Linked DNA regions of Homo sapiens: region 1 is linked to region 2. Evidence: fine-mapped expression QTL. Tissue or cell type: whole blood. Region 2 holds a variant in brackets; the other region holds the start of a gene. All regions are shown on one strand. Distances are from middle to middle.

The links. PIP is the estimated chance that this variant, and not a neighbour inherited with it, causes the effect.
Region 1: PNMA6A starts here. The variant in region 2 is fine-mapped to the expression of PNMA6A in whole blood (TOPMed, PIP above 0.99).

Annotation. Positions count from the first base shown.
Region 1 is chrX:153,068,310-153,078,330 of GRCh38, forward strand. It overlaps PNMA6A (PNMA family member 6A), which reads left to right and starts at 4,145. Exons shown (of 2, transcript NM_032882.6): 1 at 4,145-4,297; 2 at 4,626-6,710. The coding sequence starts at 4,754. The coding sequence ends at 5,953. It also overlaps the pseudogene PNMA6B.
Region 2 is chrX:153,093,362-153,103,382 of GRCh38, forward strand. No RefSeq gene overlaps it. Among named protein-coding and RNA genes, the nearest start is that of PNMA6A, 26 kb to the left of the region's middle. The variant A/G (reference allele first, on the strand shown) is at 4,700.

The DNA of each region.
Region 1 (10,021 bases), 25 kb before region 2:
GGAGGGAGCCCCTGATACCCAAAAGCAAAGACTCAGACCAGCATTTCTCACGTGCCGACACATGTACTGATGCCGCCAATAAGAATATAAACCGAGGGCACGTGATTTGTGTGTCCCAGCAGAGGGGGCCTATGGGAGGAGGGGACAGTTCAGCTGAGACATGAAGGAGGAGGAGGTGCAGGAGGAGGGGGAGGAGGAGGAATAGGAGGAGGAGGAGGAGGAGGGAGAGGAAGAGCAGGAGGAAGCTGCTGCCACAGAAGGTTCTTGGGCCTGGATGGCTCACACAGAGGAAGGAGGGATGGCAAAGGCCGAAGGTGGGAACAAGCCCTGTGCTTTGGGGCCAGCTGAACAGGCCAGATCGGCAGGAATGTGGTGAGAGGAGCTGGGGGCATGGCAACATGGGGTGGATTTCGGGGAAGGAAGGAGAGCATCAGAGGAAGCCAGATCCCCAGGAGCAGCGTGGGGGGTGCTCTTGACCAGGATGGGGACTTTGAGATTACTCTAAGGAGATGGGGTGCCACAGGGAGGAGCAGGGTCTGGTGGTGTTGCAAAAAGATCACCCTGGCTGCTGAGGGGGTGTTGGTGGAGCAGGGAGGAAGCGGAGTGGAGGCAGGGAGAACAGGAGGCAGGGCGGGCCAAGGACCACGGAGATGAGAAGGGTAGCAGTCTTGGAGCAGAGTCAACAAAATCCAATGATGGGTTAGATTTGGGAGTGAGGAACAAAGGAGAGGGGAGAGAATCTTGGCTGCTTTGTTTGAGTCACCAGGTAGGAGGCAGAGCCCTTTGCACAGAGGGGGAAGCCCGGGGACAGTGTAGGCATGGTGAAGGGGACGAAGCCCTCCGGTTTGAACATCTTAGCTCTGAAATGTCTGCGGGGCATCCACGTGGGCAGATGGATGGGTACGTGCGGAGCTTGGAAGAGAGGTCACGTCCAGAGACAGAGCATTCATCGGAGGTGCCGTATGTCCCAGGGTTGAGGCTGGGAGCCCGCCCCCACCACGCTTAGATCCAGCAAAGTAGGAGGAGGAGGAGGAAGGTCCAAGGGCAGAGAGGCAGGTAGAGAGGGAGGAGGTCAGCCCAAAAGTGGGGTGGGGGAGAGGAAGAAGCTGAGAAAGGAAATGGTTTTGAGAAGGAAGGAGAGTCAACTGTGTTGAGAGGTGGAGACAATGGGGACAGAGGACTGACAAAAGAAAGACAGTTGACGTGTCACAGCCCAGCCTTGCCCGGGGTTGGCGGGGGGCAATGGGTGTCCTGCAGCGTCCTGGACTTGGAGTCAGCAGGTGCAGAAGGAAGGAGAGTGGGAAGAGACAAGGCCGAAAACAGGAAATTAGTTGCGAGCCGGCCGGTGGGCTGGCTGGGCCAGTTGGAGACACCAGACCCACAGATGTTCCCAGGGCGGGGGCGGCCGAGGCGGGGGGGGGGAGGGGGGGGGGGTCGGTGCCCTTTCTGAAGAAGGACTCCAGAAAAATCACGGCTGAAAACAAGAGAGAGGACAATATGTGGTATAAGCCGTGACAAGTCTAACACTAAAGGTTCGATAGACAGACACTCTCACAGCAGAGGTAAAGAGCAGCAGTTTGCCTGAATGAGAACAAGCAGTCTTGGCCCTCAAGGGGGAGAAGCGGTGGGGGGCAGGGGGGCGGGGAGGACTGGACACACGAGCCCAACCGGGGAGGCTGCTTTGTGACAGAAGACATGCGTTTCTTCGCTGACCCCACGTTTACTACCTGGGAGGTAGAAAAGCCTGGGGAGCAAGACCATGCCAACCTAAGTACCACACAGAGAGGGAGCCTCCCTATAAGAATGGTATTCAGAAATAGGCACTGCAGTGGGGACGCGTGCGCCCTAGTGAACTATGTGCATATTCAGGCAGGGGAAGGCAGACAAAGGTTTTTCAGGACAAGTGAAGAGGATTACATAATTGTTTTGACATAATGATCTTTGGCTACAAGGATGAATAACAAGGGTAGCATTGGTCAGGGGCTTGGACAGGAAGTTGCTGGGCAGGTGTCCTCACAGAAGTATTATTTGTGTCAGGTTGCAACAGCCTTTGTGCAAATTTGTGGGTTTTGCAGTCTTCCGTGATAGCTTTTGTTATCAGGCATTCGTGCATGGGAACCCTGCCTAGGTGGCCCTCCACAGCTCTATTTGTCAGGTTTTTGGATTTTTGTTTGCTTGAACAACAAGTGACTCCATCTTGATTCTGAAACCTTTCACAACCATACGGGCAAGCCAAAGTCTAATTGTGAGGCCCACTCCAATGCGACCTGCTTCTGGGCAACGTGATAGACTGGCCATGGCTTATATCACAAAAGGAGAAAGGCTTCGATCTTGACGCTAGGAACTTTCTCCTGGAAACGGGCCGATGACGCCTGTCATCTGCGAGATGAGGAGGAAAGGAGCAAAGGAGATTCACAGAAGAGGAACCAGGAACGGCCAGTGAGAGGATGCACGACCTCGCCACCGCTCGGGGAAACGCAAGGCACACAGCGATGAGGTGGTGTCTCTCCCCGTGGGATGGGCAAGCAGGCGAGGCTGGACAGGACCAAAGGCTGCTCGGGCTGTAGGAACCCAGGACCGCTCCCACGCTGCCAGTGCGAGGGAACATGGGTTCAGCCACGCACCGGAGGTCACAGATGAGCAATGCTTGGTTGTGGCGTTGATAGGCACAGCCCAAGTCCCAGCAGAGCCACTGCCTGCTGTGCACCCCAGAGTCTTTCTGGCTGACGGTGGTGGCTCAGACAGGCATGCGGGATGCCACTGGCAGCAGTGTCTGCAACAGCCAAACAGTGGGAAGGACCGGAATGTCCATCCCCAGGGTCATAGACAAATACTCTGGGGCTGTGATTCAGCAAGGAGCTTGGGCGAGCTGGACGCTTGGGGGAAACCTTGGCCAGCAAGTTGCCAAACAGGAGGTCAGGCAAGGAAAGAGAAGGGGATGAGGGAACGACACCCAGAGGTGTGACCCCGTGGGAACCTGTTTGCCACCTGCCTGGTGGAGATGCTGTTCACATGGCCCCAGCCTCCCATGATGGGTCAGGTGCAGGGTGGTCAGATCCACGGGCGCAGAATCTCTGTTTTGAGCGGAGGCTGCTCTGCCCTGGCGCAGTGTCTAGCCCCGGCAACAGAGGACTGGGGAAGGACCTATGGAAGGCTGACTCAGGCCCTGACAGACGGAGGTCTCCAGGGAGGTACGACACCCATGCTGCCCTCAGGGCCAAGAGAGCAATGTCCCAGAGCCCATCAGGCTGGTGAGGGCACAGGGGGCAGGGGACAAATTGAGTAGCCCACTCCGCGCGGACTACCTTTCCAGGCACACACTCAGGCAGAGACCCAGACTCGGGACTTGCGGCTGCAAAACGGACGAGGCCCGGGCATACTTGGGTGCTGGGTCACCCTCCTAGGTGCTGGCTCCTGGCACCAGGGCAGCAAAGTGCTTCGGCCGGAGGGCTGCGGGTCCCTGAAGCCGGATGGGCAGCGGGGAGATGGCAGACCCTCCGTAGGATGGTGTGCGTGAGCTGCGTGAGCGCCTGGGGCATCTCCTCCACGGAATGGCACCCGCACCAGGTGCCCCTGGCCTCGCCTGGCCTTGCCAGCCAGAGGACCAGTCCTGGACGGGGAGGGGGAGGACAAGAGCAGGTGCACAGGCCCCAGAACCCGGCTCCCTGACCCTGGCCAGAACGCAGAGCTGCCGGACGCACCTCAGACCACTCCCTGGCCCTCTGGTGGGCACGCCGGGGTGCACACCCGTCGCCCCGCTGGCGCCTGCCTCCGGGGCACGTGCGGGAGGGGCAGAGGCCTGGACCAGGAACCGCTGTGGTGAGAGCCAAAGGCGCTGGGACCTGCGGCCCACAGACCTTTGGACACCCCGGTGGGGGTGGGGGTGGGCTGGCGCCTGTGTTCCCGGGACCCGCGGCGCGAGGGGAGTGGGGGTGGGGCTAGGGGATAGGAGCAGGTGACGTCACCCGGGGTCCTGGGGCGCTCGGGAAGGCGGCGAGAGCCAGGCCACGTGACCCGCCCGCGGCAACGGCCCTGCGCTCTCCCGGGCCGGCGACGCGGAGGGGTCCGCGCTGCACCGCCGCCGCACCCCGGCCGCGTGACCGCACTGCAGAGAGCGGCTGCGAGCAGGCGCCTGCGCACCGGCCCAAACGCCGAGCGAGCGAGGGAGAGGCACAGTCAGAGGGAACGCCCGCGCGGGGAGCCAGGGGCGCCCGACCCCGCCGCCGCCGCAGCGGCGCGCAGCCCCCGACGCGCCCTGTGGGGACCCGGACCAGGAGGGACCCTGCCCCGGGAAAAGGTATCAGACCCACCCGGGGAGGGGGACGCTGGGTCCCGGGAGACTCCGCCGCCCCTCGCCTGTCCGCCCTAACAGAACTGAAGCAGCCTGCGGGGCAGCGGTCCGGGGTCCGGGGTCCGGGGTCCGGGGTCCGGGGGCGGCGCGGGGATGAGGCCAAGACCCGCAGGGACCACCCCCCCGGGGGGGCGGGGCGGGACAGGGGCGGGGCCTGGCTGCAGAGGCGCGGCCAGGGGAGGAGGGCGGCTGGGGGTGGGAGTGGACGTGGACGTGGACGTGGGCGTGGGGAGGGGTGGGCATTAACCTCGCTCTCGCCCGCTCGCATTCACAGGCTGTGGAGACCTGGGCTCCGACCCCAGTTCATCCCCCCACACCCCCGCCGCCCCGTGCCACCCTGGTCCGCGCTGGGAACCCTATCCTGCCCCTCGTGTCAGCCCGGCACTGGCCAGAATCGCGGGCATGGCGGTGACCATGCTGCAGGACTGGTGCCGGTGGATGGGGGTCAACGCTCGCAGGGGCCTGCTCATCCTGGGCATCCCGGAGGACTGTGATGATGCCGAATTCCAAGAGTCCCTCGAGGCTGCCCTGAGGCCTATGGGACACTTTACAGTGCTAGGCAAAGCGTTTCGAGAGGAGGATAATGCCACCGCGGCCCTGGTCGAGCTCGACCGGGAAGTCAACTATGCTTTGGTCCCCAGGGAAATCCCCGGCACTGGGGGCCCGTGGAACGTGGTCTTTGTGCCCCGTTGCTCAGGCGAGGAGTTTCTCGGTCTCGGTCGCGTGTTCCACTTCCCGGAGCAAGAGGGGCAGATGGTGGAGAGCGTGGCCGGCGCCCTGGGTGTGGGGCTGCGCAGGGTGTGCTGGCTGCGATCCATCGGTCAGGCGGTCCAGCCCTGGGTGGAGGCCGTGAGGTGCCAGAGCCTGGGCGTGTTTTCCGGGAGGGACCAGCCAGCCCCAGGGGAGGAGTCCTTTGAGGTCTGGCTAGACCACACCACCGAAATGCTGCATGTGTGGCAGGGGGTCTCGGAAAGGGAGAGGAGGAGGAGGCTGCTGGAAGGCTTGCGTGGGACCGCCCTGCAGCTCGTGCACGCGCTCCTGGCGGAGAACCCCGCCAGGACGGCGCAGGACTGTCTGGCGGCCCTGGCCCAGGTGTTTGGAGACAACGAGTCCCAGGCGACCATCCGGGTGAAGTGTCTGACCGCTCAGCAGCAGTCAGGCGAGCGTCTCTCAGCTTTCGTGTTGCGGCTGGAAGTGCTGCTGCAGAAGGCCATGGAGAAGGAGGCCCTGGCCAGAGCATCCGCCGACCGCGTGCGCCTGAGGCAGATGCTCACCAGGGCCCACCTTACTGAGCCTCTGGATGAAGCACTGAGGAAGCTGAGAATGGCCGGGAGGTCTCCAAGTTTCTTGGAGATGCTGGGGCTCGTTCGGGAGTCTGAGGCATGGGAGGCCAGTCTAGCCAGGAGCGTGAGAGCCCAGACACAGGAAGGGGCCGGTGCCCGGGCTGGTGCCCAGGCTGTTGCCAGAGCCAGCACTAAAGTAGAGGCGGTCCCAGGAGGTCCTGGTCGGGAGCCAGAGGGCCTCCTCCAGGCAGGAGGCCAGGAGGCTGAGGAGCTCCTCCAGGAGGGGCTCAAGCCCGTCCTGGAGGAATGTGATAACTAGGTTGGGGCTGGGGAGGCAGCCCAGCGCGAGTCCTCCCCGGGCAAATAGGCTCCGAGGGCCCCGGGGCCTCCTCTCCTCCTCTCAGGCAGCAGGGCCCTGGAGACAGGCGGAGGCGGGGCCAGGGCCGGTCCCTCACCCCACATCGGGATCGGGGCCCCCCACTTCCCCCCAAGGGGCCCTGCCCACCACCACCTTCCCGGTGACCCAGATGACCACATTTAATACCAAATGGGGTGGGGGGAGGCGCCCCTCCAGTGCCAGGGGCACGTGCTGTGAGCTTCCTGGGAGCCCAGGTTGTGCTCACTGCTCTCCCGTATCGTGAGCACCACCTCTGCTTTCCCTGCGTAGATCTAGGCCAGGGGCTGCTTGTTTTTGTGGAGCCGTGTGTGTTCTTCTCTGAGCAGCTCCTCCCCAGAGGACCCCAGCGCAGTCCCGGGAGATGGCGGAAAGAAGGCACCAGGGCACAGTGGACACTCATCCCGTGACAGCGATGGTGACCATGACTGTGGGAGAAAGAACAGGACCCGGGATGGAGTGGGGCTGTCTGAGTTTCCCCAGTGAACTTTGTGCTTTGGCGTTCCACCCCTGTTGTTACTTGTTACTGAGTTTCCTAGACCTGGGGTGGGTGTTCCCCCAGGAGGAGGGGGGTCCCGACCTGTGTCCTGTGGTGGCCATTTGCAGCTTCTGTGTTGTGATTCCCTTCTCTTCAACGGTTTCAGTACATATCTCTCTTCAATAAATTTCATTCAGTGTTCCAGCCGGCCTCGCCTCTGCTGTGGGAAACTGCATGGGGTGCGGGGTGCGGGGTGCAGTGTTGGCTGGGGACAAGGTGAGGTGAGGTGCCACAGTGGCTGGGCTAACATCGGGGTGTGTGGGGTGCTTGGTCCCTGAGGGTCTGTGTGGTCCCCTGGGCTGCACGGGATGGCGTGGTAGTCTTGAGCAGGGGCTGATTGGGTTCCCAGGGCACGCTGATCACCTCCCAGGAGTAGGTGGTTTGGACGTTGCAGACAGGCAGAGGGACAGTAGGCTAGGTCCTGGTATCCAGGATCCCTGACAGCACTGCGGGGTGGGGTGGGGGGGGCGGCGCTCAGGGCTTTCAGAAGGGTCAGAGTGGCCACATGTGTAACCTCAGGCTGGAAGCCAAGGTCAGGGAAGAGCCCCAGGAGGGCCTGGGCATGAAGTCAGAGGCCCACACGGGAGCCATGTGGAGGACTCCGCGGGTGGGGGACCGCTCTTGGGAGACCCAGGCAGCTGACACCCTTGAGAGGGCCTCTTTCCCCCTGCCTCTCCCAACCCAGGACAAGGAGTGGGGGGCAGACATCTTCAGGTGCCCCCACCCAGGCCACAGCTGGCCCCGATCCCGATGTGGGGTGAGGGACCGGCCCTGGCCCGGCCTCCGCCTGTCTCCAGGGCCCTGCTGCCTGAGAGGAGGAGAGGAGGCCCCGGGGCCCTCGGAGCCTATTTGCCCGGGGAGGACTCGCGCTGGGCTGCCTCCCCAGCCCCAACCTAGTTATCACATTCCTCCAGGACGGGCTTGAGCCCCTCCTGGAGGAGCTCCTCAGCCTCCTGGCCTCCTGCCTGGAGGAGGCCCTCTGGCTCCCGACCAGGACCTCCTGGGACCGCCTCTACTTTAGTGCTGGCTCTGGCAACAGCCTGGGCACCAGCCCGGGCACCGGCCCCTTCCTGTGTCTGGGCTCTCACGCTCCTGGCTAGACTGGCCTCCCATGCCTCAGACTCCCGAACGAGCCCCAGCATCTCCAAGAAACTTGGAGACCTCCCGGCCATTCTCAGCTTCCTCAGTGCTTCATCCAGAGGCTCAGTAAGGTGGGCCCTGGTGAGCATCTGCCTCAGGCGCACGCGGTCGGCGGATGCTCTGGCCAGGGCCTCCTTCTCCATGGCCTTCTGCAGCAGCACTTCCAGCCGCAACACGAAAGCTGAGAGACGCTCGCCTGACTGCTGCTGAGCGGTCAGACACTTCACCCGGATGGTCGCCTGGGACTCGTTGTCTCCAAACACCTGGGCCAGGGCCGCCAGACAGTCCTGCGCCGTCCTGGCGGGGTTCTCCGCCAGGAGCGCGTGCACGAGCTGCAGGGCGGTCCCACGCAAGCCTTCCAGCAGCCTCCTCCTCCTCTCCCTTTCCGAGACCCCCTGCCACACATGCAGCATTTCGGTGGTGTGGTCTAGCCAGACCTCAAAGGACTCCTCCCCTGGGGCTGGCTGGTCCCTCCCGGAAAACACACCCAGGCTCTGGCACCTCACGGCCTCCACCCAGGGCTGGACCGCCTGACCGATGGATCGCAGCCAGCACACCCTGCGCAGCCCCACACCCAGGGCGCCGGCCACGCTCTCCACCATCTGCCCCTCTTGCTCCGGGAAGTGGAACACGCGACCGAGACCGAGAAACTCCTCGCCTGAGCAACGGGGCACAAAGACCACGTTCCACGGGCCCCCAGTGCCGGGGATTTCCCTGGGGACCAAAGCATAGTTGACTTCCCGGTCGAGCTCGACCAGGGCCGCGGTGGCATTATCCTCCTCTCGAAACGCTTTGCCTAGCACTGTAAAGTGTCCCATAGGCCTCAGGGCAGCCTCGAGGGACTCTTGGAATTCGGCATCATCACAGTCCTCCGGGATGCCCAGGATGAGCAGGCCCCTGCGAGCGTTGACCCCCATCCACCGGCACCAGTCCTGCAGCATGGTCACCGCCATGCCCGCGATTCTGGCCAGTGCCGGGCTGACACGAGGGGCAGGATAGGGTTCCCAGCGCGGACCAGGGTGGCACGGGGCGGCGGGGGTGTGGGGGGATGAACTGGGGTCGGAGCCCAGGTCTCCACAGCCTGTGAATGCGAGCGGGCGAGAGCGAGGTTAATGCCCACCCCTCCCCACGCCCACGTCCACGTCCACGTCCACTCCCACCCCCAGCCGCCCTCCTCCCCTGGCCGCGCCTCTGCAGCCAGGCCCCGCCCCTGTCCCGCCCCGCCCCCCCGGGGGGGTGGTCCCTGCGGGTCTTGGCCTCATCCCCGCGCCGCCCCCGGACCCCGGACCCCGGACCCCGGACCCCGGACCGCTGCCCCGCAGGCTGCTTCAGTTCTGTTAGGGCGGACAGGCGAGGGGCGGCGGAGTCTCCCGGGACCCAGCGTCCCCCTCCCCGGGTGGGTCTGATACCTTTTCCCGGGGCAGGGTCCCTCCTGGTCCGGGTCCCCACAGGGCGCGTCGGGGGCTGCGCGCCGCTGCGGCGGCGGCGGGGTCGGGCGCCCCTGGCTCCCCGCGCGGGCGTTCCCTCTGACTGTGCCTCTCCCTCGCTCGCTCGGCGTTTGGGCCGGTGCGCAGGCGCCTGCTCGCAGCCGCTCTCTGCAGTGCGGTCACGCGGCCGGGGTGCGGCGGCGGTGCAGCGCGGACCCCTCCGCGTCGCCGGCCCGGGAGAGCGCAGGGCCGTTGCCGCGGGCGGGTCACGTGGCCTGGCTCTCGCCGCCTTCCCGAGCGCCCCAGGACCCCGGGTGACGTCACCTGCTCCTATCCCCTAGCCCCACCCCCACTCCCCTCGCGCCGCGGGTCCCGGGAACACAGGCGCCAGCCCACCCCCACCCCCACCGGGGTGTCCAAAGGTCTGTGGGCCGCAGGTCCCAGCGCCTTTGGCTCTCACCACAGCGGTTCCTGGTCCAGGCCTCTGCCCCTCCCGCACGTGCCCCGGAGGCAGGCGCCAGCGGGGCGACGGGTGTGCACCCCGGCGTGCCCACCAGAGGGCCAGGGAGTGGTCTGAGGTGCGTCCGGCAGCTCTGCGTTCTGGCCAGGGTCAGGGAGCCGGGTTCTGGGGCCTGTGCACCTGCTCTTGTCCTCCCCCTCCCCGTCCAGGACTGGTCCTCTGGCTGGCAAGGCCAGGCGAGGCCAGGGGCACCTGGTGCGGGTGCCATTCCGTGGAGGAGATGCCCCAGGCGCTCACGCAGCTCACGCACACCATCCTACGGAGGGTCTGCCATCTCCCCGCTGCCCATCCGGCTTCAGGGACCCGCAGCCCTCCGGCCGAAGCACTTTGCTGCCCTGGTGCCAGGAGCCAGCACCTAGGAGGGTGAC
Region 2 (10,021 bases):
TTACCCCCCAAATTATTCTGCCTTCTCCTGTTTTTGTCACTCTTCTTCTTGAAGTTATGCTTGCTTTGCCTCCCATCAGAATCAGGACTGCATGTTTGGTCCTCTTTCTTCTTCTGATTAATAGGACTGTGTCTCCTTATTTTGAGGAATTCTGCAAATGTGTACTCAGCATCTGACCCAGTCCCTGAAAGAGATCCCAAAAGACAAGCCCTCAACTTCGTTCTCTTGTGCCTCTCTACCGAGTTGGACGAATGCAGGCTTTTTTCTTTTTTTTTGAAAATGCTCGGTTTGCCTGGTATACACTTGTCACATTCTACTATGCTCCCTCTAGCTCTGCCTACTTCTGGCCCTCCTCCAAATGCTCCTTGGTCCCCTTACCTTCACCAGCTGTGCCTGTCATACACCTGCTACTGATTTAGCTTACTTCAGAAGACACATAGTCCTTTTAGGGATTGCCTTGTAATAATTGAATGTTGTCACCAGTGAGGCAGCTTAGACAGTAAATACTGGGAGCTGTGGGCTTTAGAACTATGTGTGGGACATTTCCTAGCCTGAGGAGAAGTGGAGAGGGATTTCCTATCTCCTTGCCAAAGTTAAATTTTCTTGCCAAAATGTGGTGCAAAACTGAATTATAATAAAACAATCTTGAAGTTAGTAACACGATGCAAACTATAAGTTATTGTCATAGTCTGTTTTGTGCTGCTATAACAAAATGCCTAAGGCTAGGTAATTTGCAAAGAACAGAAATTTATTTCTCACAGTTCTGGAGGCTAGGAAGTCCAAGCTCAAGGCACCAGCATCTTGTGAGGGCCTTCTTGCTGCATCAGCATATAGTGGAAGGCATGAGGGCAAAAGGGGACAAATGCTGTGTCCTCACATGTCAGAAGAACAGAACAGCACAAACCCACTCTAACAAACCCTTTTTATTTAATGGCATTAATCCATTAGGCTCTCATGACTTAAATATTGTCCAAAAGTTCCTATCTCCCAACGCTGTTGCAGTGGGGATTATATGCAACACATGAGCTTTGGGGAACACATTCAGTCCATAGCATTGCCCCTCTGGCCCACAAAATTAATGTCCTTCTCACATACAGAATACATTCATTTCATCCCAATATTCCCCAAAGATTTAACTTATGCTAACATCAACTCAAAAGTCTAAAATTCAGAATCTCATCCAAATCAGATTTATGTTACACACATCTGTGTGAAGAGACCATCAAACAGTCTTTGTGTGAACAATGAGGCTGTTTATTCACTTGGGTGCAAGTGGGCTGAGTCCGAGAAAGGAGTCAGTGAAGGTAGATGGGAGAGGGGCAGTCTTATAGGACTTGGGTAGGCAGTGGAAAATTACAGTTAAAGGTGGTTATCTATTGTTAGCAGGGGAGGGGGTCACAAGGTGCTCGGTGGGGAGCTCCTGAAACTCATTGTCTAGGGGAGGAATGTCACAAGGTCGATTGATTAATTAGGTTGGAGCAGGAACAAATCACTATGGTGGAATGTCATCAGTTAAGGCAGGAACTGGCTGTTTCACTTGTTTTGTGGTTCTTCAGTTGCTCCAGGCCATCTGGATGTATATGTGCAGGTCACAGGCGTTATGATGGCTTAGCTTGGGCTCAGAGGCCTGACATTCCTGTCTTCTTATATTAATAAGAAAAACAAAACAAAATAGTGGTGAAGTGTTGGGGCTGTGAAAACTTTTGGGGGTGGTATGGAGAGATAATGGGCAATGTTTCTCAGGGCTGCTTCGAGTGGGATTAGGGGTGGCGCGGGAACCTAAAGTGGGAGAGATTAAACTGAAGAAAGATTTTGGGGTAAGGGGTGATATTGTGGGGTTGTTAGAAGGAGCATTTGTCATATAGAATGATTGGTGATGGCCTGGATGCTGTTTTGTATGAACTGAGAAACTAAACGGAAGACACAAGGTCTGAATAAGAGAAGGAGAAAAACAGGTATTAGAGGACGAAGAATTGGGAGGACCAAGGACATCCAATTAGAGAGTGCCCAAGGGGGTTCAGTGTAATTATTTGCTTGGTTGGTGAGTTCTTGGGCTCTATCCTTGAGTTTTTCTATGTTGTCATATACCAGGCCAGTTTGATTTAGGTAAAACAAAACAAAACAAAACAAAACAAAAAAACGCTTCATTTAAAAATATACAGAGTCCTCCTTTTTTAGCAGTAAGTCGAGGTCTCAGCTGTTTTGGAGGACAACCACAGCTAAAGAGTCAACCTGGGCCTGAAGGACTGATAAAGTTTGTGATATGTCTGTGATGCTAGCAGAGAAGTCATTAGAGAGGCTATGGAAGGTTGTGACAGAGGTTGAAATGCCTGCTACTCCAGTTCCAAGAGCAATAGTGGAGGCAGAAAGTCCTAAACCGACAAGCAAGGGAATTAGTGGAATAACCCTTTTTTGTTGTGTCAGTGTCATGAAGGGAACAGGAAGCTGTTCGGTCCCATTTGCAAATTGAATTTTGGGAGTAAGGAAAACTGGTGTGCATGCGCCTGTCCAATTAACAGGAAAACACATGTAGGTGGATGAGCCACAGAGGAAAAAGAGACCTTGTGTAAGGCAAAACTGGAAGTGCAAAGTGAAGAGGTGAGAGGGTGTACTAAAAGAGATGTCTTCATATGGCTGGGAATGTGGAGTAGGCAAGAGAAGATTAGCAGTCTGGCGAATTTCCTGTCTAGCCTGCTGAAGGACTGGAAGATAGTCACCTAGAGGGCTGGTGTCTGGAAAAGTTTGGGGCTGAGCAAGAAAGTACGTCCACATAAAAGTTTAAATGGACTGTACCCTGTAGCATCTTAAGGGCAGGCTCTAATTCTGAGAAGGGCAAGTGGTAGAAGTACTGTCCAGTCCTTTTTAAGTTGGAGGCTGAGCTTGGTGAGGTGTGTTTTTAAAAGGCCATTAGTCCATTCTACCTTTCCTGAAGATTGAAGATGGTAAGGGGTATGAAGATTCCACTGAATACCAAGAGCCTGAGAAATTGCTTGGGTGATTTGACTAATAAAAGCCAGACCATTGTCAGATTGCACAGAAGTAGGGAGGCAAAATCGGGGAATTATATCTATTAGAAGGGAAGAGAAGACTGCAGTAGCCTTTTCTGAGCTACTGGGAAAGGCCTCGACCTACCCGGTGAAGGTGTTGACCCAAACCAGGAGATACTTAAATTTACGGACACAGGGCATATGAGTAAACTCAATCTGCCAATCTTGTGTCAGAGTAAATCCATGAGCCTGATGCATAGGAAAAGGAGGAGGCCTGAGAAAGCCTTGGAGGCTGGTGGTATGGCAGACAGAGCATTGAGAGGTGATGGTCTTAAGGATGGATTTCCATGAAGGGAAGGAGATGAGGGGCTGCAGGAGGATAGCCAGGCTTGTATCCCACATGGAAGTGGTCATGAAGGGAAGAAAGAATGGACTGAGCTTGTGAGGCAGGAAGAATGAATTTTCCATGCTCGAAGGACCACTTGCCCTGAGTTGGAAAAGACTGGTAGAGGAGGTTTTCAGAACCAGAGTAGGTGGGAGTGATAGAGGAGAAAGAAAAATACTGGTCCTCTGGAGTGGGGGCTGGAATATTAGCAGGTGTGGAAACATTGGCTGTTTCTTTTGCTGTCCTGTTGGCATAAGCATTTCCTTTTGCAATAAGATCAGTAGGTTTCTGGTGTCCTTTAAAATGAATGACTCTAGCCTTGGCTGGCAGGAGAGCAGCCTTAAGGAGGGCCTTTATGAGGGAGGCATTGATAATGGAAGAGCCTTATGTGGCAAGGAAGCCTTTTTTGGCCCAGATGGCAGCATGGTTATGGAGGATGTGGAAAGCATATTTGGAGTCAGCATAAATGTTAATGTGCATTCCTTTAGTGAGAGAGAGCACACAAGTTAAAGCAATCAGTTCAGCTTGTTGGGAAGTGGTGGAGGGAGGAAGTGCAGCAGCTTCGATAATAGAGGTGTGGGACATGACAGCATATCTCGCTTTAGCTGGTGAAAATTGATTGAGTTTAGAAGAACTGCCATCGATAAACCAAGTATGGTCTGGGTTTGGAATTGGAAGAATAGAAATATGAGGAAAAGGGGAAGATGCTAAGTGTATTAGGGAAATACAGTCATGTGGTTCAGGACTTGTTTTGGGTGCTAAGTGAGAAGCTGGGTTGAAATCAGGCCCATGTGTAATAGTTACTGTTGGAGTTTCAACAAAGAGTGAATATAGCTGGAGGAGTTGAGGGGCAGACAATAAATGTAAAAGGTGTGAGGAGGATATTAATGCTTGAAGGTTGTGAGAACTGTAAAGGGTAAGTGGAGCATAGCCTGTGATTTTGAAGGCCTCTAGAAGTATTAAAGTGGCAGCTGTCACCACACGCAGACATGAGGGCCAGCCCAGAACTGTGAGGTCAAGTTGTTTTGATAGAAAGACAACAGGTCGTGGGCCTGGCTCCTGTGTGAGGACTCCAGCAGCACAGCCTTGTATTTCAGCTGTGTGTAAGGAAAAAGGATGGGATGAGTTGGGGAGTGCTAGTGTGGGAGCTGTCTCCAGGGCCTTTCTGAGAGAGTGAAAGGAATAATGGGGTAAAGACTTAGGGTCTATGGGATCAGTTAAATTACCCTTTGTGAGCTTGTAAAGTGGTTTGGTTAAGATAGCAAAGCCTGGTATCCAGAGTTGGAAATATTCAACAATGCCTAAGAAGGAAAGGAGTTGTTGTTTG[A/G]TGGTGGGGATTGGGGTCTGGGAGATGAACTGAACAATGTCTTCAGGAAGGGTGTGTGTATGTTGATGGAGGATTATACTGATATAGGTAATGCTAGGGGAAGAAATTTGTGCCTTGGAGGGGGATACTCGGTACCCCTTTGAGTAGAGATGTTGAAGAAGCAGAATAGTGTCCTGCTGGGAAGATTGGTAAGAGGGGCTGCAAAGAAGAAGATCAGCAATATATTGAATAAGGTGGGAGGCAGATGGGCAAAAAGAAAGCAGATCATGAGAAAGGGCCTGACCAAAGTAGTGTGGGCTGTCCCTGAAGCCCTGGGGCAGAACAATCCAGGTGAGTTGTTGGGATTGGTGGGTGTCAGGGTCAGTCCAAGTAAAGGCGAAAAGAGGCTGGGAGGAGGGATGCAAGGGGATAGTAAAGAAGGCACCTTTGAGGTCGATAATAGAATAGTGAGTTGTGGAAGGGGGTATTGAAGATAGGAGGGTGTGCGGGTTTGGCACTATAGGATGGATGGGAAGGACGATTTGATTAATAAGGCGAAGATCCTAAACCAACATGTAAGACTTGTCCGGTTTCTGGACGGGTAGGATAGGGGAGTTGTAAGGAGAATTTGTAGGCTTTAAGAGGCCATGTTGTAACAGGTGGGTGATAACAGGCTTTAACCCTTTTAAAGCCTGCTGTGGGATGGGATATTGGCACTGAGCAGGGTAAGGGTGGTTAGGTTTTAGTGGGATGATGAGGGGTGCATGATTGGTTGCCAAGGTAGGAGTAGAGGTATCCCATATTTGTGGATTAAGGTGGGAAGATACAAGAGGAGGATGTGAAAGAGGCCTTGAATTGGGTAAAAGTGCAGCAATGAGGTGTGGCTGTAGCCCAGGAATAGTCAGGGAAGCAGATAATTTGGTTAAAATATCTCAGCCTAATAAGGAAACTGGCAGGTGGGCGTAACTAAAAAAAGAGTGCATAAAATAATGTTGTCCAAGTTGGCACCAGAGTGGGGGAGTTTTAAGGGGTTTTGAATCTTGGCTGTCAATACCCACAACAGTTATGGGGGGCAAGGGAAACAGGCCCTTGAAAAGAAGGTAATGTGGAGTGAGTAGCCCCTGTATCAATTAAACAGGGGACGGACTTACCCTCCACTGTAAGAGTTACCTGAAGCTTGGCGTCTGTGATGGTCCAGGGGGCTTCTGAGATGATGGGGCAGCATCAGTATTCAGCCACTAAGCTGAGGAGATCTGGGAAAGAGTCAGCCAAGGAATATTGGGTTTGAGCTCCAGGAGCTTTAGGAGTGGCGGCGATGTGAGTTGGACAGTCTGATTTCCAGTGGGGGCCCACACAGACAGGGCATGTCTTAGGAGGAATCTTGGGCTGTGGGCATTCCGAGGCCCAGTGGCCAGGCTTTTGGCATTTGAAGCAAGGTCCACGAGGAGGTTTTGAAGGAGCCCCTGGGAGCCGTGGCTTGGATGTTCTGAAGGTTTTGTATGCTGGAGACGTGGTTGTGGGTTGTCTTACAGCGGAGGCAAGTAGTTGTAACTCAGAGATAAGTTGCTGCTTGGCAGCTTCTTCTCTGTTATTGAACACCTTGAAGGCAAGGTTGATTAAATCCTGTTGTGGGGTTTGAGGGCCAGAATCAAACTTTTGGGTTTTTTTTTTTTTTAATGTCAGGAGTGGATTGGGTGATAAAATGCATATTAAGGATAAGGCGGCCTTCTGGTCCCTCTGGGTCTAGGGTGGTAAAGAATCTAAGGGTTGTTGCCAAACGGGCCATGAACTGGGCTGGGTTTTTATATTTGATGAAAAAGATCCTAAACGCTAACTTATTTGGGAGAGGTCAGATAAAGAAAAAGTCACATGTACCCTGACTATGCCTTTAGCTCCAGCCACCTCTCTAGGAGGAAATTGTTGGGCAGGTGGGGGAGAGCTAGTCGGGGAATGAAACTGTAAGCAAGACTGAGTGTGAGGAGGGGGGGTAATAGCAGGGTTATAGGGTGGGGGAGCAGAGGCTGCGGAAGAATTGGGACCCGATTCAGCCTGGCGAGGAGCGGCCGGGGGAGGAGGAGAGAGGTCAGAAGGGTCAGTGGAAAAGGAGGATTCAGAGGACTCTGAGCTTGGGGTGGAGACTGAAGGAGCAGACGGGAGAGAAAGAAGGAAAATCTGAGACAAGTCGCACTGGGAGCAGAGACTAGGGAGGGAGCGAAGTGTAAAAAATGTTTGGACGTAAGGCACCTCAGACAATTTGCCCAATTTTTCACAAAAATTATCTAGGTTTTGTAGGATGGAGAAATCGAAAGTTACATTTTCTGGCCATTTGGAACCATTGTCAAGTTTATATTGGGGCCAAGCGGCATTGCAGAAGAAAATAAGACTTTTGGGTTTTAGATCAGGTGTTAGTTTAAGAGGTTTTAAGTTTTTAAGTACACAGGCTAAGGGGGAAGAGGGAGGAATGGAGGGTGTAAAGTTGCCCATAGTGAAGGAGGTGAAATTGAAGAGAAAGGTAGAGATGTAGAGAAGGGGAAGTGAGCAGCTACCAGGCTTTCATTAGGTGTCCCTGGCTGAGTCCTGGGCTGTAATGTGGGTGATCAGCCAAAGCAGGCATCCCCATAATTGGCTTGCCACGAGGGGAGTGTGGGTGAATGATCAAGGCAGGTGTCCCTGTGAAGATCAGACACCAAGGGACGACTGTCTTCCCAAATCTGTGACCGACGTCGGGGTTTCTGAATTCACAGATAAAATGTGTCTCCTTTGTCTCTACTAGAGAGGAAAAAGAACTGGAATTGGAAGGACAAGGAGATTGAAGGGTAGCAAGAGAGGCTGGAGAAGAGAGTGAAGAGACCACTTACCCAATTTGAAATTGGTGAGATGTTCCTGGGGCTTGTCTGAGGACTGGAGGTCATAGGTGGATCTCCTCATGGAGTGAGGGCAAGGACAGGGGACTGGTCTCCCAAAGGAATCCCCCTGTTCCGGGTTTTTCGGCACCAAATGTTACACACGTCCATGTGAACAGACCACCAAACAGGCTTTGTGTGAGCAGTGAGGCTGTTTATTCACTTTGGTGCAAGTGGGCTGAGTCCGAGAAAGGAGTCAGCAAAGGAAGATAGGAGAGGGGCAGTCTTAAAGGACTTGGGTAGGCAGTGGAAAATTACAGTTAAAGGTGTTTATCTATTGTTAGCAGGGGAGGGGGTCACAAGGTGCTCAGTGGGGAGCTCCTGAGACTCATTGTCCAGGGGAGGAATGTCACAAGGTCAATTGATTAGTTAAGGTGGGGCAGGAACAAATCACAATGGTGGAATGTCATCAGTTAAGGCAGGAACTGACTGTTTCACTTGTTTTGTGGTTCTTCAGTTGCTCCAGGCCATCTGGATGTATATGTGCAGGTCACAGGGGTTATGATGGCTTAGCTTGGGCTCAGAGGCCTGACAATATAGATGAGACTTAAGGTATGCTTCATCCTTAGGTAAATTTCTCTCCAGGTATGAGCCTGTGAAATCAAGCAAATTATGTACTTCCAATATACAATGGTAGGACTGGCATAGGATAAACATTCCCATCCCAAAAGGGAGAAATAGGAGCGAAGAAAGGAGTAATAGGCCACAAGCAAGTCCAAAACCCAACAGGGAAAACAACCATAAATCTTAAGGCTTGAAAATAATATTCTTTGACTCCATGTCCCACTTTCCGGACACACTGATGTGGGGGTGCAGTCTCCAAGGTTCTGAGCAGCCCTGTTCCCATGACTTTGCTGGGAACAGAGCATGTTTCAGCTCTCATGTATTGAAGTTGCATGCCTGTGGTTTTCCTAAGCCGGAGTTGCACTCTGGTGGCTCTACAGTTCTGAGATCTCAGGGGTGACCCCACTTCCACAGCTCCATTAGGCTTTGCCTTAGTGGGGGCTCTCTATGGTGGTTCCATGTGTTTGGCTGGTCCCTGCCTGAGCCCCAAGGCTGTTTGAGACATTCTATGGAATCTAGGTGGAGGACGTCATGCCTCCACAACTCTTATGCTGTGTGTGCCTGCAGAGTCACTTCCATGTCAACACTGTCAAGGCTCATTACTTGTCCCCTCTAGAGTGATGGCCTGAGTCATACATGGACATGCTTCAGCCACAGCTGGGGTGGCTTAGGTGCACCACACTGGAATTTGGGGAGCAGAGACCTGAGGCACCTCTGGACAGTGAGCCCTGAGGTTCCACAGGAGCCCGGGGCCCCTTGCTTTAAACCATTCTGCCCTCAATTGAGGCCCTGGTCCTCTGGGCCTGTGATTGGAGGGGCAGCTTTGAAAATCTCTGAAATGCCTTTGTGGTCATTCTCCCATTGTCATGATGAATAGTACCTGGATTCCTTCTATCCATACTAATCTCCTTATCAGTGGTTGCTTGGCCACACCCTAGAGTATGTAGCAGAAAGTCAACACCTCATTGTAACACTATATCTATGGCACCGCACACGGGGGACCTAAGAAGGAGTAGGCTAGAGCACGTGACCTGAAAGACTATCCAGACCAGAGCTGTGTTCTTCAGACTTTTGCAAGACCTAGGGTTACATGGAGGTAACACAGTGCCACAGTTGTTTGACTCAAATTGTATATACATGCTGCTGTTTACCAGTATCTCAGGAAGCAGAATTTCAGTGACATCCAGTGTAAAAAGGAAGGGCAAAGGGTAGATAAATAAGGGTTTTGTAAACCAAATTCCTGTGTGGGATGACAGCTAATGCTGTATCAGGGATGAAAGCTGTAGACCTAGCTAGAGGCACTGTGTGCCAGCATTAATACAGGTACAAAGAGAAAAGGAACTTTTGAATGACCTGTACCCAATAATTGATTGGAGTTATTGCTGAGGTGACAGAAGATGGTTACTTTCAACTTTGTGTGCTTCTGTGGGGTTTGAACATGTTTTTAACAATCCTGAATTACTCTGGTAATCAGGAAAATTTTATGAGATCGGGTGTAGGCTGAAGAAGGTTTGGTCCAGGTAAGGACAGGAAGGAGTCTTGTGGGAGGGAAGTCAATGGGGAAGTAGAGGAAGAGCTTGGCTTGGGTTGTCTTACCTTGACCCTATCTATGGACCTGGCTTGTAGGGGTGTTCCTCTTCTTTCCTTTCTGGTGTTGAGGGTTGGTTGTCTGGTAACAGTGCAAGTTGCTTTTGGTTTCCCTGTCACCATTGCCATGTCAAACCCTCCCATTGGTCTATACCAGGCCCCATGGCCTCCTTTTCTATACTCCTCACCTGGACAATGAGTAGCCACACACCCAGGGTCTGTTCTGTCAGCAAAACACACCCTAGGCCTACATTAGTGCTGGGGAGGGGACTTAGACATCACACAGGAC